7 linked regions of the Homo sapiens genome follow. The protein of the gene in region 6 purifies or fractionates together with the protein of the main gene of each other region. This does not show direct contact. Each region holds a gene or a part of one and is shown on either strand. Other genes may lie near its edges.

Region 1 (3,500 bases), on a different chromosome or scaffold from region 6:
GGAGGTCTCTGCTCCAAAATTCCGTCATTCCCTTCTCACCTCCCTCAGACCTCCTCCAAAGCTGATTTGCAGACTAAGCCAGTAATACATATCTCACAAGGTGTGGAGCTCTGCAGGACATTCAAGCTAAAAGATGCAAAGAAAATTTTTAAGCAAAAAGGAGTTCATTTATTTGGGGTTTCACAAAACCTCATTAGGCTCTCTACTGTCTATCTAAATACTTCCATCCATTTCCTCCTATCCTGTCCATAACTGAAGGTGGAGCCCACTGTTACTTAACGGTATTTGTGTTAAGGACACTGAGCAATGCCGTATTAGTTGTATAATGACTTCACTACCTGCTGGGTTTGAATCCCAGGCTCGTCATTTGCTGGCTGCAGTGCAGCTCTTTCAGACTTGTAATTTTAAGGTAGTAGCACATGGTAAACACTCAAAAAATGTTATTTCTTATCCTTCTATCTATTTTGGAGGTTTGGTATAGCATAGTAGGAAGATGAGGGACTTTGAAGTGAGACGTGGGTTTGAATTAAATCTTTATGGCCTTGGGCAAATCAGTGAGACACGGTAGTCTCTGTTTAATATGTACATGTACTTGTTCCGAGAATTCAATGAATAATGTATGTAAAGTGTTCAGATCCTAGCCATCAATATTTATTGGATGTCTTTAAATCACCTAGTGCATTATGAGAGCTCAGTTAGTGGCAGCTATTAACAATTTGGGTTTGCCTGTTGCCTTTTCTAGGGTTTGGGTGTTTTATTCGTTGTATTTTGAATGAATCTTAATGTAGCATGCCATACTGAATGTGCATCATGTATACACATATCTTAATATCAAATCAGAAGTTTTCGTTTCACACTCAGCTTATTTTAGGAAACATATATTGCTCTGTTCATAGTGAATCTGATTGATTAATTGAATGTTTTATTCCCTGCATATGCTTTTATGTCTTCAGTACCAACCCTCTTGAGGAAGAAGTGCAAGAATTTTCTCTTATAATCCTCTCATTTGTGATTATTCTTGTCTTGGTAATTTTTGACACTATCCACAGTATAGTTACATGTTACATGCCTTGTGTTTTTTAAACCTTAAAGTTGCATATGCATTGCTGTAACTCAAGCATGCTTTCATTGCTTTGTTCCCTAGTTCAAACTATGTTTTAACTGATGAGCAATCACTTTGGATTGAAGATACTACAAAATCAGTTTATCAAGTAAGTTCAACACGCAACAAACCCATGATTGAAAAAATGGAAATTTAGGATTTTCTTTGTTTCAGCCCCAAATAGGAAAATAAGGATAAAGTTAAGCTCAGGTACAAGACCACAAACACTCCTTGGTTCTCTGCCTACAAACCACTCCTATGATGCAGAAAGTTGTTGAAAGCTTAGTATATTCTTTCTAATCACAGCTACTATCTGAAAACCCCCCCGATGGAGAAAGATTTTCAAAGATGGTAGAGGTATGTGTTTTTTATGCTTACATCCTCTTCTTAGCACGAAATAGAACTTCAGAGGATTCCACTAACCAAAATGTAATCGCTTTGTTTTTCCCAGCATATATTAAACACTGAAGAAAACTGGAACTCGTGGAAAAATGAAGGTTGCCCAAGTTTTGTGAAAGAAAGGTAAATACATACTGAAAGAAAGGTAAATACATACTCATCACAAGAACGACGAGAAAGGCTTTTGAAAATGTGCTCCGATATGATTATAGCATGTAAAAATACATGTATATATTTCACATAAAAAATGTAAGTTGAACTTTGTAAGAGTACAACCACTTTGATTTACCTCTGTATTTTTTAAACCTCATAAATTTCTTGTCATTAAATTCCTGGAACAAACATCTTATTATTGAGAAGAATACTGTATATCTACTCCGTGTAATTTGCCATATAATGTGGCATTTTTATCTTATATCTGATAATTGTTCTATCATAATATGAAGTTTTCATTTTTTTTTTTTTTTTGAGAGGGAGTCTCACTCTGTCACCCAGGCTGGAGTGCAGTGGCATGATCTTGGCTCACCGCAGCCTCCGCCTCTTGGGTTCAAGCGATTCTCATGCCTCAGCCTCCTGAGTTGCTGGGATTACAGGCGCCTACCACCATGCCTGGCTAATTTTTGTATTTTTAGTAGAGACAGGCTTTCACCATGTTGGCCAGGCTGGTCTCAAACTCCTGACCTCAGGTGATCCACCTACCTCAGCCTCCCAAAGTGCTGGGATTACAGGCATGAGCCACCATGCCCAGCCAGTTTTCATCTTTTTTAAGAGGAAAACAATAACTAAATTTTCTTTTACGTTAAACATTCTTCTATTTCTGTTATCCATTTGTAATTCAAAAAATAGTGTATGTTTTGTTCACGACAGAACATCAGATACCAAACCTACGAGAATAATTCGGAAGAGAACAGCACCCGAGGACTTCCTAGGGAAAGGACCCACCAAAAAAATTCTGATGGGAAAGTAGGTGAATTTGTCTTCATGTGGGATGTTCTTAGTTATTTTTATATTTTGAAGATGTTACTTTAAGAACTCTCCATCCAAAATATAGTATGAGATTGTGTTTGGTACACACATAGATAGCCAAAGCAAACCGCACTGTCTATACTGCCCATTGTGTGGGTTCATGCACCAGATAAACCTTCATTTTGTCTCCAGCTTCCAAAATCTGTGTCTCTAGGCTGTGCCATTTTTTCCGTTTCAGACAGTAGAATTGTTTAGATTCCAGTTGTTGCAAGGTACCATAATCCTTGAGTTCTCTTACCTTCCAGTTAACTATTCATTGCTTTATATTGTGCTGGAATATTTTTAGAAAAAACTAAAGATTATATCATTATCATTAGTCATGATTAATGATTATATGCTCATATAGAGAATAATTTTAGGTATTTTAAATACCAAAAATTATTGAGAAAAGTAAAACTCATACTGTCAACATCCCCAAATCCACTGTTTACATTGTATTGTTTTTCTGTTCAGTTTCAAGGCACATGAGGATGGTGTCCATAAAAAATGTATTTATTTCTGTGTCTATTTTGTAGTGAGGAGTTAACAAGGCTTTGGAATCTTTGCCCTGATAATATGGAAGCCTGTAAATCAGAGACAAGGCAAGTTGAACATTTTTCAAATGAAGTGTTGCTTTTGTCAAGTGTTGAGTAGAATGGAGCCTTTTCTCAGCTATGATCAGAGCTCAAATGAAATTTAAAAGTTTATTGTGGTTGACTTTTGGCACAGCAGCGTGTAACTTCCCACCATAAAACTCCTCAAAGTGCTGATAAAATAATTTTAGAAATCACAAAAAAATAAAGATTCACAAAAGGAATCAAAACTACAAACAGAAGAGTAAGCCTATGAACTGATACGGTTCTAGGGCAGCAGTACTAATGATTGCCAGCTTTGAGAACCAGGGAACTTGGGTTTTAATAGTCACAAAAGTTCGTTGAACTTGCAAAATGGGCAAGTTTAATAGCAGTCTAGACATAGGTAAAGTAAGAATTAA
Region 2 (3,500 bases), on a different chromosome or scaffold from region 6:
TGCAACCTCCACCTCCCAGGTTCAAGCGATTCTCTTGCCTCAGCCTCCCAAGTATCTGGGATTACAGGCATGCACCACCATGCCCAGCTAATTTTGTATTTTTAGTAGAGATGGGGTTTCTCTGTGTTGGTCAGGCTGGTTTTGAACTCCTGACCTCACACGATCCACCTGCCTCGGCCTCCCAAAGTAAAAGTTTTATTTTTTATATCTTTATGTATGGGATAACCCAACACATTTTGTTAAAAAGGACATTTTGAAAATCATTTCTGAAGCTGATAAAAGACATTTGGGAACCTGTCGCTTTGGGGATGTGTGGGTGTGTGGAGCCCTGGAACTGTCCCGGGCTGGCTGTAGCACTGTCAGGGCACCTGTCAGGCCAGCAGTGAGTCTCGTGTGGGAACATGAGCTTGAGGTTCTTCTTTGTATCTCACTCTAGATGGGATGCATAAAACAAAACCTGAAATAATCAGATTTGCTGAAAATAACTACAGAGTAGAATTTAAAACTTGAGTATGTTGAGGGAAGGAATATATATATCTGGGAGAGAATGGATACGTTTTGTTTTTCTGAAATGGAATTAGAAAGATGTTCAGTTGTCTTGTGCATTCTTGCAAACCTTGCAGTTTTGAGAGCCCTGTTTCTGCCTTGTATCATTTTCCACTGTGTATCTGATTCTAGGAGCGTGAACAGGGAGACAAAGGTGAAGTTTGTGCACACCTCTGTCCATGGGGTGGGTCATAGCTTTGTGCAGTCAGCTTTCAAGGCTTTTGACCTTGTTCCTCCTGAGGCTGTTCCTGAACAGAAAGATCCGGATCCTGAGTTTCCAACAGTGAAATACCCGAATCCCGAAGAGGGGAAAGGTGTCTTGGTAACCTAATTTTTTTTTAAATTATGAAATCTGCTTTTATATTCAAAACTATTACTGTCAAGTAAAATACATTTTTATGTGTTTTCATTGTGCTGAAGAAAAACTAATTTCAGCATGGAAATATGTATGTTTGGCTGGGTGCAGCGTCTCATGTCTGTAATCCCAGCACTTTGGGAGACCAAGGCAGGCAGATCACTTGAGGTCAGGTGTTCGAGAACAGCCTGGCCAACATGGCAAAACCCTGTCTCTACTAAAAATACAAAAATTAGCTGGGTGTGGTGGTACATGCCTGTAATCCCAGCCACTTGGGAGGCTGAGGCGCTAGAATTGTTTGAACCTGAGAGATGGAGGTTGCAGTGAGCTGAGATTGCACCACTGCACTCCAGCCTGGGTGACAGGGTGACAGAGCGAGACTTTGTCTCAAAAAAAAAAAAAAAAAAAACAAGAAGTATGTATATTTGTTAGTCATTAATTTCTTAAAGGATCTTTCAAATTAAACACCCCAGGATCAGGATATGAGAACTGAGCTCTAAATGGTGCTTCAAATTCAGTTAATTTAATTTAATTTAATTTGCCGTGTCTCCTTAATGCCAAAAAGAAGCAGTAATAGAGTGAAACTTTAGCAGGTTATGATTTTTATTTCTTGTCATTTTTCTGATATGAAGTGTTGCTTACATTATGGTTTCTGTAACATTTTTAAAGGTTGGGGTAGCAGTGGCATTCAGAGAATCAGTTTATTTTGTTTTATTTGTGAGGCTGATCACACAGCAATGCCCCGAAATACCAGTCCAACCACAGACCTACTGGCGCATGTGCAGCAGGCACACTGGTAGGCTTGGGTCACACACCGATGCTCCCATTATCTGACCTCTGACTTAGGAAGATACTATGTGACCAACCAAGACCAGCTGCAGCTTTTGTTTGCTAAATTTCACTTCTGGAGCTGTCTTGGTTGGTCCTATATTATCTTTCTAAGAGGGGAAAGACCTCTTGAGTTCTTAAGGAACTGAATGTTTTTAAAGACTATCATATGCTCGATTCTTGATTAAATAATCTTTTATTTTCATATTCTTCTTCAGACTTTGTCTTTTGCTTTGGCTGACAAAACCAAGGCCAGAATTGTTTTAGCTAACGACCCGGATGCTGATAGACTTGCTGTGGCAGAAAAGCAAGACAGGTAAAATTAATTGTGATTACCTATATTATAGAACATATAAAGGATGATCTCTTCATTGGTAAAATGTTTCTGGGGAGACGGGACCTATTTGGAAACATTTCCCATTTATTTTGCAAATGATCATTTCACTGAACCTCCTGTAGAGTCTTCTAATGGAGAGCAAGATAGAGATCTAGTGTGGGGGGAGGTTACGTGATTGGCAAGCATAATGCAGAGTAAATCAACCCAGTATATATTTCAAATTGAAACTCCTATTTGGGAACTTCTCATTTTGTAATTGATCTTTTTATAAGTAATGTCTCAGTGTCTAATGAGGGTAAAGCACTTTGGTGCTAGCTGTATGCTTCAGTATTTGCTGAGGGGTTTAGGAGGGAGCAGTACCTTCAAGGAGATGCTGAATTTAGTTTGGACAGACCAGGGAGGAATTCCTGTGGGGTATCGGCACAGTGTTTAAGACAAGTCTGACCAGAGAGTTTGTACAAAGGAGAAGTAAGTACGTGGGGCTAAAGTTGAAAGGTAGGCAGGGCCCAAGCAATTTTGGGCGTCAGGTAGCCTATGTGATGTTTTGGGGGCAGGAGGGTGCTGCTGCTGAAATGGTAGGGTTTTCAGATTGTGATAAAACAGGTTCCATTCTATATCAGTGTTGAGAAAGTTAAGCTAAGATGATACGTCCTGATAGGTGAGATTTACTTCTAGCCATCTGGACTGCCAAGAGAAGCAGAAATTACACATCTTTTCTCTGATGTTCTGACCATTTAGGACTGAGCTTGATCTTAAGGGGTACTGAGCTGTCCCCTCTCAGAATCAGCAATACTGACCAGTCCAGAAATTGAGATAGCAAAACTTACTCTATATATGGGGGATCTTGCCAGCATATTTGTTATATTTAAAACCAAAGGCTTTGCCAAAGATTAATATAGAGCCATTGTGTGTCATGTGTGACATACTTATTTTATACAGTCTTCAAAGACAGGATGTCTGTTCAGGCAAACTGGCTGATATATATGGTAGCTGCTCAGATGTTTGTAAAATGGCAGTTACATTTCTGACCAGTTATTTAAAGATGATGAATAACAAGAACAGCCTTGCAGAAAATACTTAGATGCTTTGTTTGCTAAATTGTTTTATCCCCATGACACTTTAGAGTCTTCCTTAAGATTATGGAAATGAATGGTGGTTGTTGTTTTTTTTTTCTTTCAGTGGTGAATGGAGGGTGTTTTCAGGCAATGAGTTGGGGGCCCTCCTGGGCTGGTGGCTTTTTACATCTTGGAAAGAGAAGAACCAGGATCGCAGTGCTCTCAAAGACACGTACATGTTGTCCAGCACCGTCTCCTCCAAAATCTTGCGGGCCATTGCCTTAAAGGAAGGTTTTCATTTTGAGGTAGGGTGTTTCTGGGACTCACTCATTTTCCTTTCATCTGCTCTGTAGAAGATCTAAGGCATGTCTTTCTCTTT
Region 3 (3,500 bases), on a different chromosome or scaffold from region 6:
TTGCCATGTCTAAAGGGTACCCATCTTGGGGCATGGATAATCCAGGGTGCCGCAGACAGGCAGGTCCCAGGAGAGAGATGGTGCCCGGAGGAAGGGATGGGGGAGCACACGTGTATGTGTCTCATTGTCACTCACAGCAAACAGTGATTGCTGACCACTCGCTGAGCGCCAGCCACATGGAGACCACCATGAAACTTCTGAAGACCAGGGTGCAGTCCCGCCTGGCCCTCCACAAACAGTTTGCATCCCTAGGTAAGCTGATGATGGGGCAGTGGTTTAAGAGTCACTCAGACAACACACGGACAACAACAACTTAGCCTTTCACTCAAAACTTGAATCCTGATGACAAATACAAGACCTGGATTCCTGGCTTTACGGAGTGGGCATCTTGGCAGAGCCACTGGGGAGAGCTCCAGGCCTGTCCAGGCAGAGGACCGAGCTCCCCCTTAGAGCCATCAGTGCTGTCCTGCCTCACAGAGGAGGCCCAGAGCCATTGGGTGGCACAAGTTTGTGGACTGGTCGGGGCAGTTCATCCTAGGTCATGCATTGCAGATTTTGATGTGCATTCGACACATATTTAGTGAGATCCTGATTCATGCCAGGCACTGAGCATAGTGCTGGGGGAAGAACTGAGCACAGTGAACCCCTGCCCCTGGCTCTGTGGCTCACAGTCAGCTTTTTGAATATAGCTATCCAGGGAGCAACTCGCATATCCCTTCCCCAAGGCCTACTGACCTCGTGTTCCCCAGGGTGAGGCTGAGCCTATGTTTTCTTCTAAGCTCCCAAGTGATAATGATGAGCCACTGACTTAGGTGGTGGCATTTGGGGGCTTCTTTTAGTTTATTCACTCAGTAAGTGGTTGTCAAATGCTTACCATGTGGCAGGGGGATGGGGTCAAGATTTTTCTGACCTAAAAGAGTCTCTGGGACAGGCGCAGTGGCTCTTGCCTGTAATCACAGCACTTTGGGAGGCCAAGGCAGACAGATCACTTGAGGTCAGGAGTTCAAGACCAGCCTGCCAACATGGTGAAACTCCGTCTCTACTAAAAATACAAAAATTAGCTGGGCATGGTGGTGTGCACTTGTATTCCCAGCTACTCAGGAGGCTGAAGCAGGAGAATTGCTTGAACCTGAGAGGCGGAAGTTGCAGTGAGCTGAGATCGCATCACTGTATTCCAGCCTGGGCAACAAAGCGAGACTCCATCTCAAAATAAAAAGTAAAAAATAAAAAAGAGTCTCTGTCAGGAAAGGCATTGGGTTTCCAGGACACATCTGGAGACCACTCCCCACCAGTTCTTAGACTCCACATGGCTGCCGATCTCTCCAGAGCACTGATGTTTGTCCATCGGGCCGTGCTCCCCATCAGCACTGCTGAGTTTGTTTTGTCCCAAGGTAGGGAACTTGTCATTCTGGACAGTACTTACTGTGTTGGCATATTTGCTTATTTAAATGCCAGCAGGAATTTACCCTGGAGCAGTTATCTGGCTCTTCTCCCTGACACACAACACTTCAGTTGTTTCCTCCATCAAGGTCAGCTATGAAAACACAGGCCTCTATGCTATTTGATCTAATTAACAGTCACTGCTGCAGGGGCACCCTCCCTAGTTCTGACTGTAAGGGTTTTTCTTTGGCAGGCTATCATTTGCATTAAAGAGAAAGCACCATAAGTGCTGGCACTGGATCTGGCCACAAGCACATAGCACTGGGTGAAGGTCAGGTTGACATGCTTGCATTCCTGGCACGTGTTGACCTGGGTACTTCCTGAGTACCAGGTATACCAGGATAGCTGGCCGGGCCATCTGAGCCCTTCAGAGAGCCCCAGGAGGATGCTAGTTACCCATCTGTGGCACCTGATTTCTACCTGTGACGTCATCTGTCTTGTTCTCTTTTAGAACATGGCATTGTGCCAGTTACCAGTGATTGCCAGTACCTCTTCCCTGCCAAGGTTGTCTCTCGCCTGGTGAAATGGGTGACAGTTGCCCATGAGGATTACATGGTAGGTGAAGGAGTGACAAGTTACCCTTACTGTCCTGAGGATTGCAGGACCATGTCACCTTTCAGCTCCTGCCACCTCACTGGAAGAGCAGGGGGTTTAACCAGAGGAGCCAGCAGTTCACCTCTTGTCTGTGGTACCTCTTCTAGGAGCTGCACTTCACCAAAGACATTGTGGATGCGGGACTGGCTGGGGACACCAATCTCTACTACATGGCGCTCATCGAAAGGGGCACAGGTAATTGCTCTGCTGATTACAGGGGTTCTAGACAAAGGGCGCTGCCAAGAATCAAACACTCTCCGGGGCTGCCCAAAGCAGAAGATCCTGGAGTCCTGCAAGGACTTAACAGATAATAATGATCGTGAGAGCCTGTTCAGCAAGGACTCATTCTGCAACACAGTCACACACACGCTGTGTATCACTGAACCCTCACTGCAGTCCTAGGGGTGGTGCTTTCATTTCTATTTTACATGGGAGGAAATTCAGGCTTAGTTGCAAGCCCAGTCTGAGCGCTGAGCCTGAGCTCTTTGCTCCTTCCTTCACCGCTTTCTAGTACCGGACATCTCCTCCTTCTCCCTCTTCATAACAGGGCTGAGGTGTCACCCTCAGGTTGTAAAGGGCAGGGCCACAGGGCCTCGCTCCCTCTTCTGCAGTCCCTGCACTCACTTTAGAGGCATTGAAAGCTCTGATTCTTCATACCTCTTCTGGCATCTGACTCTGCCAGGGCTCCCTGCTGAAGTCCTGGGATGTTGTGTTTGGGCCGTTGTGCTGTTGTCCCACCCAAGCCGCAGCAAGCCTGGCACTGCCCGTGGGATCTGACACCCTCAAGACTTGGTGCTGAGCTGAGGAAGTTGTCTGTAGTTCTAAGACAGTTCCAGAACTGTAAGGAAAGGCTGAACTCTTTGGTATCAGAGTTTCTGTCCTCACTACCCCACTTTCTTCTCTTTCTATTCTTCATGTCTTTTAAAAAAAAAATTCTGAAGAAACTGAATATTTCAGATACAGTTGAGGCCTCCCTATCCCACTTTATTCCCTTTCTCCTAATAAGTGACCACTATTTGGATTTTATGCATTTGCTTTCCATCCTTTCCCCGCTACACCCTTTTTTTTTTTTTTTTCAGTAGAGATAAGGTCTTGCTTTGTCGCCCAGGCTGGAGTGCAGTGGCACGATCATAGCTCACTGCAATCTTGAACTCCTGGACTCAAGCAATCCTTCTTCCACCTTAGCTCCCTGAGTAGCTGCGACTACAGGTATGCTACCATGCTCAGCTAAGATTTTTTGTTTTTGTTTTTGTTTTTTTGTAGAGGCATGTTCTTACTATGTTGCCAAGCCTGGTCTCAAACTCCTGGCCTTTCTTCCAAAGTGCTGGGATTGTAGGCATCAGCCATCATGCCTGGCCTCTCCCCTTTCAAAATTTAATTTAACTTATTTTTTGAGACAGGGTCTTGCTCTGTTGCCTAGACTGGAGTACAGTGGCTCAGTCATGGCTCACTGCAGCCTCAACTGC
Region 4 (3,500 bases), on a different chromosome or scaffold from region 6:
AGGGGTTATCAACCTCAATGCCTTTGACCCCACACTCCCGAAGACGATGACGCAGTTCCTAGAGCAGGGAGAGGCCACCCTCTCAGTGGCAAGAAGGTAAGTAAGTGGGCAGCATCGCCCTGAAGCAGCTGCCCTGGTCCCCCTGCACCCTCCCCGCTCTGGGAAACAGCACCAGCAGGTAGCTCTTTTGCAAGGGAGCAGAGTAACCCCACCTTTCCTTTTCTCCCGTTCTCTTAAAAGATCCTTAGAAATCTTACATAATAACATCTTCAGTTTTCAGAGGAGAAAACTGAGAGCTAGGGGAGGTGATTAACAATTTGAAGGCCATACATGTGGTGCTGGAACCAGGACTCTATACTTCATCACACTGCCTCCTCTGGGAATGAAGTCCTGGACTGACTGACGGGTCTGGGCCCGGGGGTCCTAAAAGGCATCTTATGCAGCTGGGGGAGTGATATAGACTCCCAGCTCCTACAAGGAGAGAGGACTGCAAGGAGGTTTTCTATAAGACACTTGGTTCCTGGGTTTGGACTAGATTAGGTGAGAGTGTCCCTGAAGCCTGGACCCCTATAGAATCTGGTCTAAGGAGCTGATGAACAATAAATTAAAAATACTTTAAGATGTCATTTTCATCTATTAAAATGGAAAAAAATACAAATGTTTCACAGCTCACAGTATTAACAGTATGTTCCCATATTGCCATATTCTGCAAAGACTGGAAATCTCCATGCCCCTCATTAGGGACTTGGGTATATCTCTATAGAGCAGTAATATGCAGCCACAAGAAATAAAGAGGACACTCTCTATGTATTGTTACATATTGTTAAGCAGAGATCTCCAAAATCAGTTGTTTTTTTAAAAGATGTAAATAGTATGCTATCATTTGCATACAAAAGGGTGGGAGAAGAATATCCATAGAGTAGCTGCGAAGAGCCAGGGGAACGGGGTAACCGGAAGGGGAAAGGGAAACCTTTCCATGTATTCCAGTTTGTATCTTTTACATGGACATGAGTTACCTAAGGGGGAGAGGAAATCAACACTGGATAAATAAAAGCCCTGCTCTGATAGCAAAGGACAATAGTCAGTGATTTTCACACTGACTCTGATGGTTGATAGAGCTAGGAAATAGATTTCAAAAAGCAAAACCTGTAGCTGCTGCAGGATCTGCCCAGCCTGCCCGGGATTGCCCACCTGTTCCCAGCCAGACCCTCTCACCTGCTCTGGTCTCTACAGAGCCCTGGCTGCCCAGTTGCCAGTCCTACCACGGTCGGAGGTAACCTTCCTGGCTCCAGTCACACGACCAGATAAGGTGGTGTGTGTGGGCATGAATTATGTGGACCACTGCAAAGAACAGAACGTGCCCGTGCCCAAGGAGCCCATCATCTTCAGCAAGTTTGCCAGCTCCATCGTGGGGCCCTATGATGAGGTGGTCCTCCCACCACAGAGCCAGGTCAGTGTCTCCCCACTGCCCTCCCTAGTCACTGGGCCCATCACAAGGGCATTCTGAGCTCAGTATTGAGCCTACTGGAGCCACCTCTCGCTCAATAGCGCATTCAGCAGAAACTCTACAGGATTGTACACACAGTAGTAACACTGGCCTTGGAAAAAAAAAGTTAATGTACGTGTTTTCCTGGTTACAAAAGCAATGCACCTTCACTGTAGATAATAAAATAGAGATAAACATTAAAAAATTATGTCACCCATAATCCCACTGCCCATGGCTCGGAATATTAATGTTTTTCTGTCTACCTTCCCAGTGTTTCTCCGCTCCTGTATATGTTTATACTGTACATATACTTACCTTTTACTTAAGACTCCATCAGGAGCATTTTTTCATGCCATTAAGTATTCGCCCTGACACCACGGAGTTTGTTATGTAGATTAGTTTATTCCTGAGTACCTTACTGCTGGATACTGTTTCTAGTTTTTGGCTTCTATAAATAAATGTTGCAGTAAACATCCTTATGTGGAAAAGGCTTTGCATGTCCATTAATACATTATTATTTCCTTTGAATAAACCCTTTGGAATTTAAATATGTCAGCGTATAGGCAGTATTTCAAAATTTTTGAAAAATTCTGCCAATTGGCCTTTTAAAAAATTGTAAAAGCAACTTACACATCCACCAGTAGTGTATATACCCTTTCTAACACTGGTTACTTTTTCTCTCAGATTTTTATTTTAGAAATGTCTTGAAAATTATAGAAAAGCTGGGAAAATAATACAGTGAACACTCAGATAACTTTTCCACCTGGTTTCATTGTAAACATTTGGCCATATATCCTTTTTCTCCCTTGTCTTCTCCCTGCCCTCCACATGGCAAACACACATTTTTTTTTTTTTTTTTTTTTTTTGCAGGGTATGGGGTGGAGGGGACCTTTTAAAACACATTGGAAATATTAAGACAATTTAGTCATAAAAACGTAAATAGGCATCTTCTAAGAATAAGGACAATGGCTTGCATGACCATCCCACCATTATCACAACCAAAAAAATTAACTTGAATAATATTTAATATGAAATCCAATTGCCCCAATTCCCAATCGGAAGTACTGCTGACTTCCCCAAAGATAACTTCTAATTTGGTTACTTCGTTTGTTGCTCCATGATCAACCAAGGCCACACACTGTATTCAGTTATATCTCTTTAGTGGTTTCAATCTAGGACAGGGTTCCATAGACTTTTTCTTAAAGGGCTGTATTAGTCTGTTTTCATGCTGCTGATAAAGACATATCCGAGACTGAGCAATTTACAAAAAAAAGAGGTTTAATTGGACTTACAGTTCCACGTGGCTAGGGAAGCCTCACAATCATGGCAGAAGGCAAGGAGGAGCAAGTCACATCTTAGGTGGATAGCAGCAGGCAGAAAAGAGCTTGTGCAGAGAAACTCCCATTTTTAAAACTATCAGATCTCATGAGACCCATTCACTATCATGAGAACAGCACGGGAAAGACCTGCCCCCATGATTCAGTCATCTCCCACCGGGTCCGTCCCATAGCACGTTAGAATTATGGGAGCTACAAGTTGAGATTTGGGTGGGGACACAGAGCTAAACCATATCAAGGGCCAATTAGTAAATATTAGGCTTTGCGTGTCATATGTTCTGTTTTGCAACAATTCAACTCTGCTGTTATAGTGTGAAAACCACGATACAGAAATGAATGATGGGTTTCCAATCAAAGTTGATTATAGCAGATGTTGAGCTGGCCATAGTTTGCCAACTCCTGCTCTCAAACAATACCCCCTGCCCTTTCCTTGAAGAATCCAGTTGTCTCATAGCATGTTTCACATTCTGGGTTTGTCTGGTTGTTTCTTCATGATTAGTGTCAGGGTAAGCATTTTTATCAAGAGATCTACAAAGCAGATGTTATACATTTTCCATCGTATCCCACTGGGAGGCTCATGTCAGTGGTCCCAGAATTTGACCACTTGGTTTAGCTGACATTCACTAGGTCCCTCCATTGTGAAGATGCATTTCTATTTTTGTAATAAGCAATCCATG
Region 5 (3,500 bases), on a different chromosome or scaffold from region 6:
GGGATGGGAGAGGCCGCACTGCCCTTGGCTTCCTGAGTCCTCTGCAGGCCCAAGGCCCCGTGGTCCCAAAGATCGTCCTGCAGCTCTGGCCTCTGAGGAACACAGGGGTCTGGGAAGAACATGGAAATTTCCTGGGTTCCTTTCTCAGTTTTGGCCTAGGCTTTTGGTAGGTGCAGGAGACAGGAGTGGCAATTGGTGCTGACCAACAAACTGGCCACCTCCATTTCAGATTGTCACAGCCCTGGCCATTGCGGGAACCCTCAAGTTCAACCCAGAGACCGACTACCTGACGGGCACGGATGGCAAGAAGTTCAGGCTGGAGGCTCCGGATGCAGATGAGCTTCCCAAAGGGGTGAGCGCCCACGCCCCCTGCTTGCTGGTTGCTGTGTGGCCACGTCACTTCCTTCTCAACCTCACAGCACCTCCTGTGCAGGCAGGGAGGGCGCTGCTAGTGAGAAGGAAGCAGCTCTGTTCCCTGGGAGGGGAGGTGGGGCCCGAGGAAACTTGCCTTCTGAGAGTCTGTCCTTGTGGGAACTGAGGACTCAGCACCCCACGCATCCCCATTCCCTGCTGCAGGAGTTTGACCCAGGGCAGGACACCTACCAGCACCCACCCAAGGACAGCAGCGGGCAGCATGTGGACGTGAGCCCCACCAGCCAGCGCCTGCAGCTCCTGGAGCCTTTTGACAAGTGGGATGGCAAGGACCTGGAGGACCTGCAGATCCTCATCAAGGTCAGCAGCATGGGGACGGCAGGACAGCCCCACCCTGCCAGGGCCCCCCGTCCCCTGAGCATCGGGAAGGGCCATGAACCTGGAGGAAGTGAGCACAGTCAAGACGCAGGTGGGAGATGGAAGGGAGGTTTGGCTGCAGAGCAGAGAGGGTATCGCAACGCAGTCCAGCGTCCCCCTTCTCTGTGGCCCCGAACTGGGCAGAGCTAGATCTGGCCAGCCTCCGTCTGGGGCCCTCAGCCATCCAGCAGCAGCTGATCAGAGCCACCTCCAGTGGGTGTGGGCAGGTGAGTACAGCTCAGGCTGGGCTGGGACAGTGTGTGTGATTGCACAGCAGGCTCCACACCTGGCACGTCCACACAGGCTCTGGAAGCCATGGACAACTCCTGCCCCCACAGTTGGGCACCCGTGGATATGGGATGGCTTGTGTTTGGCACCGACCAAAAACAAGCCTTTTTGGTGTGGCCAGAGGCCTCCAATCTGTGTCAGATATTTATTTATGCTGCTTATTAAGGGGTCTCCAGGCACCCCTGTGACAGAAGAGACTAATCAGTCATCAGCCAGGACCCAGGCATGTCCTGGGCTCCTGTGTCCAGCATGAGGTCTGTGGCTGATCTTGCAGCTGAGGCCTGAAGGGTGAGCGAACATTGACCTGTCCCAACTTTGGGCGGCCTCTGCCCCATAAGGGAGACTGAGCAGCCAGAGGCCTTTGAGGGGATGAAGGCCTGGCCTGAGCCCATGTGGCCTTAGGGTGGAAGCACCAGGACCACAGAACACGTGTCTGAAGACTTGCCTGCCTCTCACCCCTCTGTCACCCCTCCTGGGCCCCGGGGCCTGCTGCCTGCCTCTGGAGGGCTTGTCATCCACCCCTCCAGGGCCATGCCCTGACCTCTGTCCTCTCTACTTACCACCCAAGGTCAAAGGGAAGTGTACCACTGACCACATCTCAGCTGCTGGCCCCTGGCTCAAGTTCCGTGGGCACTTGGATAACATCTCCAACAACCTGCTCATTGGTGCCATCAACATTGAAAACGGCAAGGCCAACTCCGTGCGCAATGCCGTCACTCAGGAGTTTGGCCCCGTCCCTGACACTGCCCGCTACTACAAGGTGGGTCAGAGTTGATAGGGGCAATGCCAGTGGTCACTCCTGAAGGGGCCTGCAAGGCAGGTGCAGGGAGGACATTAGGGGAGTGGAAACTGGGAAGGAGGCCGACCAAGCCCAAAGGGGACTGCTGTGGAAGGGAGGAGAGGCCTGCAGCCCCTCCCTGTGGCTGAGAAGGCATGAGGCCCAGGTCCGGTGGTACAGCCGGGTCCCTGCACCAGGAGGAGTTAGTGAGAGATATCTTAGGATATCTGGCCCTAGACAAAGACAAGGAAGGGGGCCGACTCAGGAAGTCAGAGGCCAAAAGCTCAGAGAGGGGGCTACACGGGGCCTCACAGTGAGCAGGCAGAGAGGGTCTGAGGTGATTGGACTTTTTCTGCTTTGAGAAACAAACAGAACCAGGGCTGAACCCAAGTCCTGGCCCAGCCGGGTGAAAGGACTCTGGCACCCCCTGGTGGCTGGGTGGGGCAGAGGGTGCTCCCAGGAAGGGGGCGCCTTGAGCTTCACAGATGCATCTTGTGTGGGGCCCGGAGGCCGTCCCTGTCTCACCCAACCTCCCTCCACACACACCTGCCTCTGCCAAGCACCAATGGGTGGCTTCTGTCTTCTTTGCCACTGCAAACAACCACGTGCCTCTGTCCCCTCGGGGCCTCGTTTGGGTCTCATTCACGCAGGCTTCACTTGCCCTTAGGCAGCAGGCGAGGAAGGGCCCCTCCAGCCCCTTTACCGGGAGCCTCAGGATGCCCAGGCGCCAGGTGGGTGAGGCCAGGCAGGTAGGGCCAGACAGGTGAGGACGGTGCCCTCCTCTGCCTTATAACCTTACCCCCGCTTGCCTGACAGAAACATGGCATCAGGTGGGTGGTGATCGGAGACGAGAACTACGGCGAGGGCTCGAGCCGGGAGCATGCAGCTCTGGAGCCTCGCCACCTTGGGGGCCGGGCCATCATCACCAAGAGCTTTGCCAGGATCCACGGTGAGCTGGAGTCTGTACCCAGGCCATCCTCATCCCATCCCTAGTGATCAAGGTCACTCTCCCTGCCCGTGGCTGAGTTGGGCCTGGTTCTAGGCTGTGTCCACTGCAGCCCACAGGCCCGTCAGCCTCTTGCCCCTTCTTAGGCTCACACAGTGCACATCCGACGCTCAGCTTCCCGGCTTCCCGCAGGCCCTGCTTCCAGGCTTGTAGATCTGAGCCGCTGAGATCTAGGACATGTGCCAGGGGGTTCTTTCTGATCATGAATGTGCAGCAGGAAGGCCTCGCAGACCTCAGCACCAGCGCACACTTGCTAGGGGCACCCCTAGTGAAAGGGAGCAGACCAGGGCCCCATAGTCACTGCCCGGGCATTGTCCCAGGCAGCAGGATTAGGGGCATCTCCCAGAGCCCCAGATGGGTTCAGAAAATGAAGCTCTCCAGGCTAGTCAGGCCCCCGATGACCGAATGCCGCCTGCTTTCCAGAGACCAACCTGAAGAAACAGGGCCTGCTGCCTCTGACCTTCGCTGACCCGGCTGACTACAACAAGATTCACCCTGTGGACAAGCTGACCATTCAGGGCCTGAAGGACTTCACCCCTGGCAAGGTTAGGGGCCCGGGTCCCCCTGAGGTGGTGGGGTGAGGGGCAGCCACCTTGTTTCCCCTCCTGCACTGGCCCCAGGGTAGCTTCTCCCAGGAGG
Region 6 (3,292 bases):
AAACAATAATTTACGTTTCTAATCTAACCAAGTGTGTTGCGTATGATAGGCAGGTAGTAAGTAATATGTAAAGTAATAAAATAAAGTACAATTACTACCAGTATAATTATCACACTCAAAATTGTTTATTAGTGATGAGCATATATCTTCCTTATTCCTCTTCAATGTAAGGCAGAAGGAGTTCCTGTTTTTAGTGAGAATTTGAAATAGAAAAGGTCAGAATATCTCTTTGTTGACAGATGTGGGATCTGTTGTTGAGAGATGTAGAGAAACATGTTTGAACATTTCACTTTGTGTGTTTTATGTGTTAAGTTCCAGGCAGGGGAATAGAATTAAATTATTCTTTATTTTGAAAATACAGATATGATAAAGTCACGTTCATTAAACAAAGAAACACAGATTCTAGAGCAGTCAGAAAATGAACTTCTTAACATCTACACTAGCGGCAGCTTCCTAGAAATCACTGCGCTACGGGCTAGTAACGGAGTCATTGCCATTCAGAGTGTGCATTTTTTTTTCTCTTTCCAGTTTTGCTGGCCCCCCTAATTATCCATTTTCTGATGAATATTAACATGGAGGGCATTGCATGAGGTCTGCCAGAAGGCCCTGCGTGTGGATGGTGACACAGAGGATGGCTCTATGCTGGTGACTGGACACATCGCCTCTGGTTAAATCTCTCCTGCTTGGCGACTTCAGTAAGCTACAGCTAAGCCCATCGGCCGGAAAAGAAAGACAATAATTTTGTTTTTCATTTTGAAAAAATTAAATGCTCTCTCCTAAAGATTCTTCACCTACTTTGGTCTCCATAACTTCTATGTTTTCTCTCCTTCTGACACACTAGTGCCCCCAAATTGTGATTTGCCTATACGTTTAGGGCCGGGGTTGGAAGATGTTAACAACCATTTAAGATTCATTTCTGCAGTGGGAGTGGGTGGAGTTTCACCCTCTGGGAAAGGGGCAGGTGACAGGTATTTATCAGTCAGTGCCTCTCTAGCTCTTGTAGGAAGAAGCACACGCAGGATGGAGTCTAGAGGATGAGCGATATTGACTAGCAATTCATGGGCTCCCTCCAGCAGTGCGAGGGTCAGAGTTTCTGGAGCCTTGGGAGGAGGCATCCCTGTGAGGGGGGGTTAGGGAGATGGGAGGGCACCAGGAAAAGTGATTAGAAGTCAGGTATGGGAAGGCTAAATAGGACAGAGTCGAGTACATCTCTGCTTGGAAAAACATATCAACACCCTTTTTTTTGATCATTATATCTTGTTCATAAAAGAAAACTTTCCACATTGTTTTAACAAACCCCACAGCTGAGAGTCAGGCCTGAATCTTTGATGTGTGCCCATTCACAACGTTGACCCTATTGGTTTGTGGTGGGGCAGGACATCGAAGATATCATTGACTCATCACATTCCCCTGAATAGCTCATATTTAGAAAATATTCTTAGATTGTAAAAATGTACTGTTCATTTGTTATATGCAATCTTTTAAATGTTTTATACTTTAAACAAGGCATAGTTACAAGTATAAAACATAAATATCCCAAAGCCATTATGCATGGCACTCAAGATTAAAATGGGAAATAATACATCTAATAAATCAAATGTTCCAAGACTTCAAATGTCTTTTGGAAACAGGCTATGTAAAACAGCACACTGGTTTCAAACTTTGGTAAATTTTAAGAAGAACTCTTACAAAGGCATTTAATTCTTATACATAATTTTCAGGGGAACTAATCAAATCAGCTAATCATGAAGACATGATTTTCGTTTTAGAAAACACTTTTGAAAACTTGGGATAATCTCATGTCTTAATGATCAAAGCATTATGAGAAGGACAGTGGTTTTTTACCTGGGCACACTTTCTAACACATTTACTCTCCACTATTCGTACTCTGGTAGCCATGTTAACCCCATCAGAGATTCCTTCTCAAGCCATGTCTCAGAGCTGATAGGCATCCCAGCAAGTTTTGCAGCTCACAATTTTTCTGTAAATTACTTATTCTATAAAATTGGAAGAGGCCATAAACTTTGGAGGGCCCTAGACCAATTTTTTGGATTATTTCTGGTCTACTCTCATTCCGTTGATGATCTTAGATATTCTCTGCATTAAATATCACCTCTAGGCTGAGAAATCCACCAAAAAATATTTCTAGCTCAGCGTTTTCCTCCAAATCTTCAATGGAAGATCATAATGTGAACTCTGCATCTCCATGTTAAAGTTTAATGGACATTCACACTTAGCATGTCTCAAAGAAATCTCATGTAAACCATGGCCATCCTGTTCTACCTTAACTTTCTGAGTCTATGGAATGATAATTTCACATCTCATAAACTTGACTGATGTAAGTGTCAAGAAAAGATTGACATTTTGTTAAAACTTCGTAGCCAAGTGTGTAACGCTTAAGCAGACTTTCATATTTCAAATCTCTATAGCACGTGTAACTCTTTTTTCAAGATGTGAAATAATCATTAGGTCAGTCATTTGTAAATAGTACGGCTGCTGTGGGCTTTTTCCAGTTCTTCACCATCCATTTTTATAAAACTCTTATTGTTAAAAAAAAAAAGTTACTCAGAATTTCATAAAGCCAAACACCTGATTTCAGGAACACTTGAGATGTAAGAAAATTTTATAGGGACCTCCAATCACTAATTTTCCTATTTTTTCTCTCAAAGAAATGCTGAAGGGAGGAATTCAGGTTGAATGAAAGGAAATAGTAACTTACAGCCATATAGAGTTATAAAGACTTCTTGTAAATGTGAACATATGGTAAAATATAAAAACATGTATTTTTGAAATTTTGGATTCTACTCATTATTTTACTTCAATTTAAGATATAAATGTATAGAAATAAGTATAATTCTAAGCTAATACGTATGCAATGTAGGAAGCTGTAATTACTGACCAAAACTATGTGAAGTGGAGAAAACCTGGGGAAGTGGATGGTTTTAGATGAAACTGAAGTTAAATTCATATTGATTTAAAGTAAATTGTCATAACTTTATAAAGTTTTTCATCATCACCACAGCAATCACAAAGAGAATAATTATGAATATACGCAAGAGGAAATGAGAAGGGAATCCAAATGTCATTAAAAAAAAATCACGCCACCTCACAAAATGGTAACAGTGGATATAAAGGATAGAAAGCTATAAACCTGGTAGGAAAACATTGAAAATGGCACAAGTGACTCCTTCCCTGTCACCAATGACAGTCATGTGTTGCATAATGCCTGGGCTATCTTCTGAGAATGGCTTTGTTAGGCAACTGTGTCATGGTGGGGACATGATAGCATTAG
Region 7 (3,500 bases), on a different chromosome or scaffold from region 6:
GAAGCGGAGGCTGAGTGGGGAGCTGTCCGCGGGAACCTGGGGAGATGGGTGCAGAGCAGGGAGAGGGATTTGATTTTTTTTTTCCTTCTCTCTTTTCTTTCTTTTTTTTTTTAAGACAGAGGCTCACTCTGTTCCAGGCTGGAGTGAAGTGGCCCGATCTTGGCTCACTGCCTCCTCTGCCTCCTGGGTTCAAGCGATTCTCCTGCCTCAGCCTCCCAAGTAGCTGGGACTACAGGTGCCCACCACCACGCCCAGCTCATTTTTGTATTTTAGTACAGACGGGATTTCACCATGTGGGCTAGGCCAGTCTCGAACTCCTGACCTCAGATGATCCGCCCGCCTTGGCCTCCCAAAGTGCTGGGATTGTAGGTGTGAGCCACCGCACCCAGCCCAAACCCTACTTTATTCTCCCTCCAGCGTTTATCTCCCGCTCCCGCTACACGACCTGCCCCCATGCTTATGGCCCCCTATACACTTTGCCGTCTGCCTCAGTGCTGTCTCCGCGGTCACTAGTGGCTGGATAGGGACACTCGAGGTCCCCACTGGTGCACACCCACTGCCCAGGAGCACACAGCCCATTCCCCACGGCGGTGTCTCAGAGCACCGAAGGCCAAGAAAGCTGGAATGGCCGGGTGCAGAAAGGTGGCAGGGAATCGGTGGCAAGGAGCCAGGTGCGTGACTAGAGGCGGTCAGCCTCGGGGGCAGCTCCTTCGGGAGTTGCTAAGAAGCAGGATGGGGGCCGGGCGCGGTGGCTCACACCTGTAATCCCAGCACTTTGGAGGGCTGAGACGGGCAGATCACGAGGTCAGGAGATGGAGACCATCTTGGCTAACACGGTGAAACCCCGTCTCTATTAAAAATACAAAAAATGAGCTGGGCCTGGTGGCGGGCGCCTGCAGTCCCAGCTACTCGGGAGGCTGAGGCAGGAGAATGGCCTGAACCGGGGAGGCGGAGCTTGCAGTGAGCCGAGATCGCACCACTGCACTCCAGCCTGGGCGACAGAGTGAGACTCTGTCTCAAAAAAAATAAAAAAGAAAAAAGAGCTGATGGTTGCACAACATTGCAGACGTACGAAATGCTGTGAAATGGTGCGGTTTCAGGTGGTTGAAGTGGTAAACGTCAGGTGTGATATAGCGGGGAGGTGAGAAGGCAGGGCGGGGAGGCAGATCCGGCCAGGTTTGTCCTGCACCGGGAGTGGATTAGAGCTGATGTTTATCAGTGAGTTCTAAGCCGGTTGTCGGCCTGCTTGGAGGGCGGTTTATCTGTGCCCGCCTGCAGTGGCTGGGGCGCCCCCAATGATGGGAAAAGGGAGCATCTGCGTGGGTGTGGTGAGGGGGGACCTCCAGGCCGCTCTATCTGCTGTTGCCCTGGAGTCCCCGGCCCCACCCTCTGCAGAGCTTCTGTGGGGTTCCTGCTGGGGGTGCCCCCAGCCCAGCTCAGTCTCGTGCCCTTTGCTCCACCAGCTCCTGTCCAAATATGACCCCCAGAAGGAGGCAGAGCTCCGCACCTGGATCGAGGGACTCACCGGCCTCTCCATCGGCCCCGACTTCCAGAAGGGCCTGAAGGATGGAACTATCTTATGCACGTGAGTACACGCAGGGACACAGGCTGTCTCACACTTAACAAATCTTGGTTTTTCTCACTTTTTTTCTTAATTAAGAAATTTTTGGGGGGCCGGGCATGGCCTGGCTCATGCCTGTAATCCCAGCACTTTTGGAGGCCGAGGGTGGTGGCGGGGGGCGGTGGATCTCGAGGTCAGGAGTTCGAGACCAGCCTGGCCAACATGGTGAAACCCCGTCTGTACTAATAATACAAAAAAATTAGCCAGGCACCTGTAATCCCAGCTACTCAGGAGGCTGAGGAAGGAGAATTGCTTGAACCCGGGAGGCGGAGGTTGCAGTGAGCCGAGATCACACCATTGCACTCCAGCCGGGGTGACACAGCGAGACTCCATCTCAAAAAAAAAAAAAAAAAAAAAAAAAAGTTAGCTGGGCGTGGTGGCTAAATAAATAATTTTTTTTTTTTGAGGTGGAGTCTCACTCTGTTGCCCAAGCTGGAGTGCAGTGGCATGATCTCGGCTCACTGCAACCTCCACCTCCTGGGTTCAAGTGATTCCCCTGCCTCAGCCTCCCGAGTAGCTGGGATTACAGGCGACTGCCACCATGCCCGGCTAATTTTTTTTGTATATTTAGTAGAGATGGGGTTGCTCCATGTTGGCCAGGCTGGTCTTGAGCCCTTGACGTCACGTGATCTGCCTGCCTCGGCCTTCCAAAGTGCTGGGCTTACAGGCCTGAGCCACCAAACCCAGCCAAAGATTACTTTATAAGAGTGGAAACTTGAGGCCTGGGATGGTGGCTCACGCTTGTAATCCCAGCACTTTGGGAGGTTGAGGTGGACGGATCACGAGGTCAGGAGATCGAGACCAGCCTGGACAACATGGTGAAACTCCATCTCTACTAAAAATGCAAAAATTAGCCGGGTGTGGTGGCAGGCACCTGTAATCCCAGCTACTCGGGAGGCTCAGGGCTGAGGCAGGAGAATCACTTGAACCCGGGAGGTGGAGGTGGCAGTGAGTCTAGATAGTGCCATTGCACTCTAGTCTGGGTGACAGAGCTAGACGCCGTCTCAAAAAAAAAAAAAAAAAGAGTGGAAACTGAGGCCCAGAGAGAGGCCGTGAGTTTGCCCAGGAAGGCGTGAGCTTGGCTGAGATCAGCATCGGGTCTTCACGGTTCCTCGCTGCTCACAGAGGTTTCTGTTTCCCCCGCCCCATGTTGTGCCCTCCAGACTCATGAACAAGCTACAGCCGGGCTCCGTCCCCAAGATCAACCGCTCCATGCAGAACTGGCACCAGGTGAGGGGCTGGTGGAGCGGAGCAGGGATGGTGCTGGGGGCCCATCTAACAGGTGGGGAGACTGAGGCCCACTCACTGTCCCTCTCCTGCCTCTTCCCAGCTAGAAAACCTGTCCAACTTCATCAAGGCCATGGTCAGCTACGGCATGAACCCTGTGGACCTGTTCGAGGCCAACGACCTGTTTGAGAGTGGGAACATGACGCAGGTGCAGGTGTCTCTTCTCGCCCTGGCGGGGAAGGTGAGGCCCAGAGAGGGGCAGCCACCTGCCCAGAGTCACACAGCGAGGTGGATGTAGCTGCTGCATTCACTCGTTTGCAAATTTCTGTTTGTTTATTTTTGAGTCGGAGTCTCACTCTGTCACTCAGGCTGGAGTGCAATGGCGTGATCTCAGCTCACTGCAACCTCCAACTCCCAGGTTCAAGCGATTCTTCTGCCTCAGTCTCCCGAGTAGCTGGGATTACAGGCACCTGCCACCACGCCTGGCTAATTTTTGTATTTTTAGTGGAGACTGGGTTTCACCATGCTGGCCAGGCTGGTCTTGAACTCTTGACTTCAGGTGATCCGCCCGCCTCGGCCTCCCCAAGTGCTGGGATTACAGGCATGAGCCCCTGTGCCCGGCCTCGTTTACAAATATTTCTGAGCATCCGTG

The links.
Region 1: the proteins of AKR1C2 (region 6) and THOC1 purify together in Homo sapiens (co-immunoprecipitation; one large-scale study listed by IntAct). This does not show direct contact.
Region 2: the proteins of AKR1C2 (region 6) and PGM2 fractionate together in Homo sapiens (co-fractionation; one large-scale study listed by BioGRID). This does not show direct contact.
Region 3: the proteins of AKR1C2 (region 6) and THOC5 purify together in Homo sapiens (co-immunoprecipitation; one large-scale study listed by IntAct). This does not show direct contact.
Region 4: the proteins of AKR1C2 (region 6) and FAHD2A fractionate together in Homo sapiens (co-fractionation; one large-scale study listed by BioGRID). This does not show direct contact.
Region 5: the proteins of AKR1C2 (region 6) and ACO2 fractionate together in Homo sapiens (co-fractionation; one large-scale study listed by BioGRID). This does not show direct contact.
Region 7: the proteins of AKR1C2 (region 6) and CNN2 fractionate together in Homo sapiens (co-fractionation; one large-scale study listed by BioGRID). This does not show direct contact.

Annotation. Positions count from the first base shown.
Region 1 is NC_000018.10:223,048-226,547, reverse strand, and holds part of THOC1 (THO complex subunit 1), read left to right. Parts: intron 1-1,144; coding exon 1,145-1,211; intron 1,212-1,408; coding exon 1,409-1,459; intron 1,460-1,553; coding exon 1,554-1,624; intron 1,625-2,347; coding exon of another isoform or gene 2,348-2,368; coding exon 2,369-2,464; intron 2,465-3,042; coding exon 3,043-3,108; intron 3,109-3,500. UniProt on the Homo sapiens protein: Component of the THO subcomplex of the TREX complex which is thought to couple mRNA transcription, processing and nuclear export, and which specifically associates with spliced mRNA and not with unspliced pre-mRNA.
Region 2 is NC_000004.12:37,843,686-37,847,185, forward strand, and holds part of PGM2 (phosphopentomutase), read left to right. Parts: intron 1-678; coding exon 679-868; intron 869-1,947; coding exon 1,948-2,045; intron 2,046-3,245; coding exon 3,246-3,426; intron 3,427-3,500. UniProt on the Homo sapiens protein: Catalyzes the conversion of the nucleoside breakdown products ribose-1-phosphate and deoxyribose-1-phosphate to the corresponding 5-phosphopentoses.
Region 3 is NC_000022.11:29,515,758-29,519,257, reverse strand, and holds part of THOC5 (THO complex subunit 5), read left to right. Parts: intron 1-137; coding exon 138-252; intron 253-1,891; coding exon 1,892-1,995; intron 1,996-2,141; coding exon 2,142-2,229; intron 2,230-3,500. UniProt on the Homo sapiens protein: Component of the THO subcomplex of the TREX complex which is thought to couple mRNA transcription, processing and nuclear export, and which specifically associates with spliced mRNA and not with unspliced pre-mRNA.
Region 4 is NC_000002.12:95,405,708-95,409,207, forward strand, and holds part of FAHD2A (oxaloacetate tautomerase FAHD2A, mitochondrial), read left to right. Parts: coding exon 1-96; intron 97-1,233; coding exon 1,234-1,450; intron 1,451-3,500. UniProt on the Homo sapiens protein: Tautomerase that converts enol-oxaloacetate, a strong inhibitor of succinate dehydrogenase, to the physiological keto form of oxaloacetate. It is thereby required to maximize aerobic respiration efficiency by preventing succinate dehydrogenase inhibition.
Region 5 is NC_000022.11:41,524,617-41,528,116, forward strand, and holds part of ACO2 (aconitate hydratase, mitochondrial precursor), read left to right. Parts: intron 1-229; coding exon 230-352; intron 353-576; coding exon 577-732; intron 733-1,182; exon of another isoform or gene 1,183-1,645; coding exon 1,646-1,837; exon of another isoform or gene 1,838-2,671; coding exon 2,672-2,804; exon of another isoform or gene 2,805-3,284; coding exon 3,285-3,406; exon of another isoform or gene 3,407-3,500. UniProt on the Homo sapiens protein: Catalyzes the isomerization of citrate to isocitrate via cis-aconitate.
Region 6 is NC_000010.11:4,987,275-4,990,566, reverse strand, and holds the end of AKR1C2 (aldo-keto reductase family 1 member C2), read left to right. Parts: intron 1-528; coding exon 529-571; 3' UTR 572-2,792; downstream 2,793-3,292. UniProt on the Homo sapiens protein: Cytosolic aldo-keto reductase that catalyzes the NADH and NADPH-dependent reduction of ketosteroids to hydroxysteroids.
Region 7 is NC_000019.10:1,029,608-1,033,107, forward strand, and holds part of CNN2 (calponin-2), read left to right. Parts: intron 1-1,463; coding exon 1,464-1,585; intron 1,586-2,784; coding exon 2,785-2,851; intron 2,852-2,951; coding exon 2,952-3,089; intron 3,090-3,500. UniProt on the Homo sapiens protein: Thin filament-associated protein that is implicated in the regulation and modulation of smooth muscle contraction. It is capable of binding to actin, calmodulin and tropomyosin. The interaction of calponin with actin inhibits the actomyosin Mg-ATPase activity.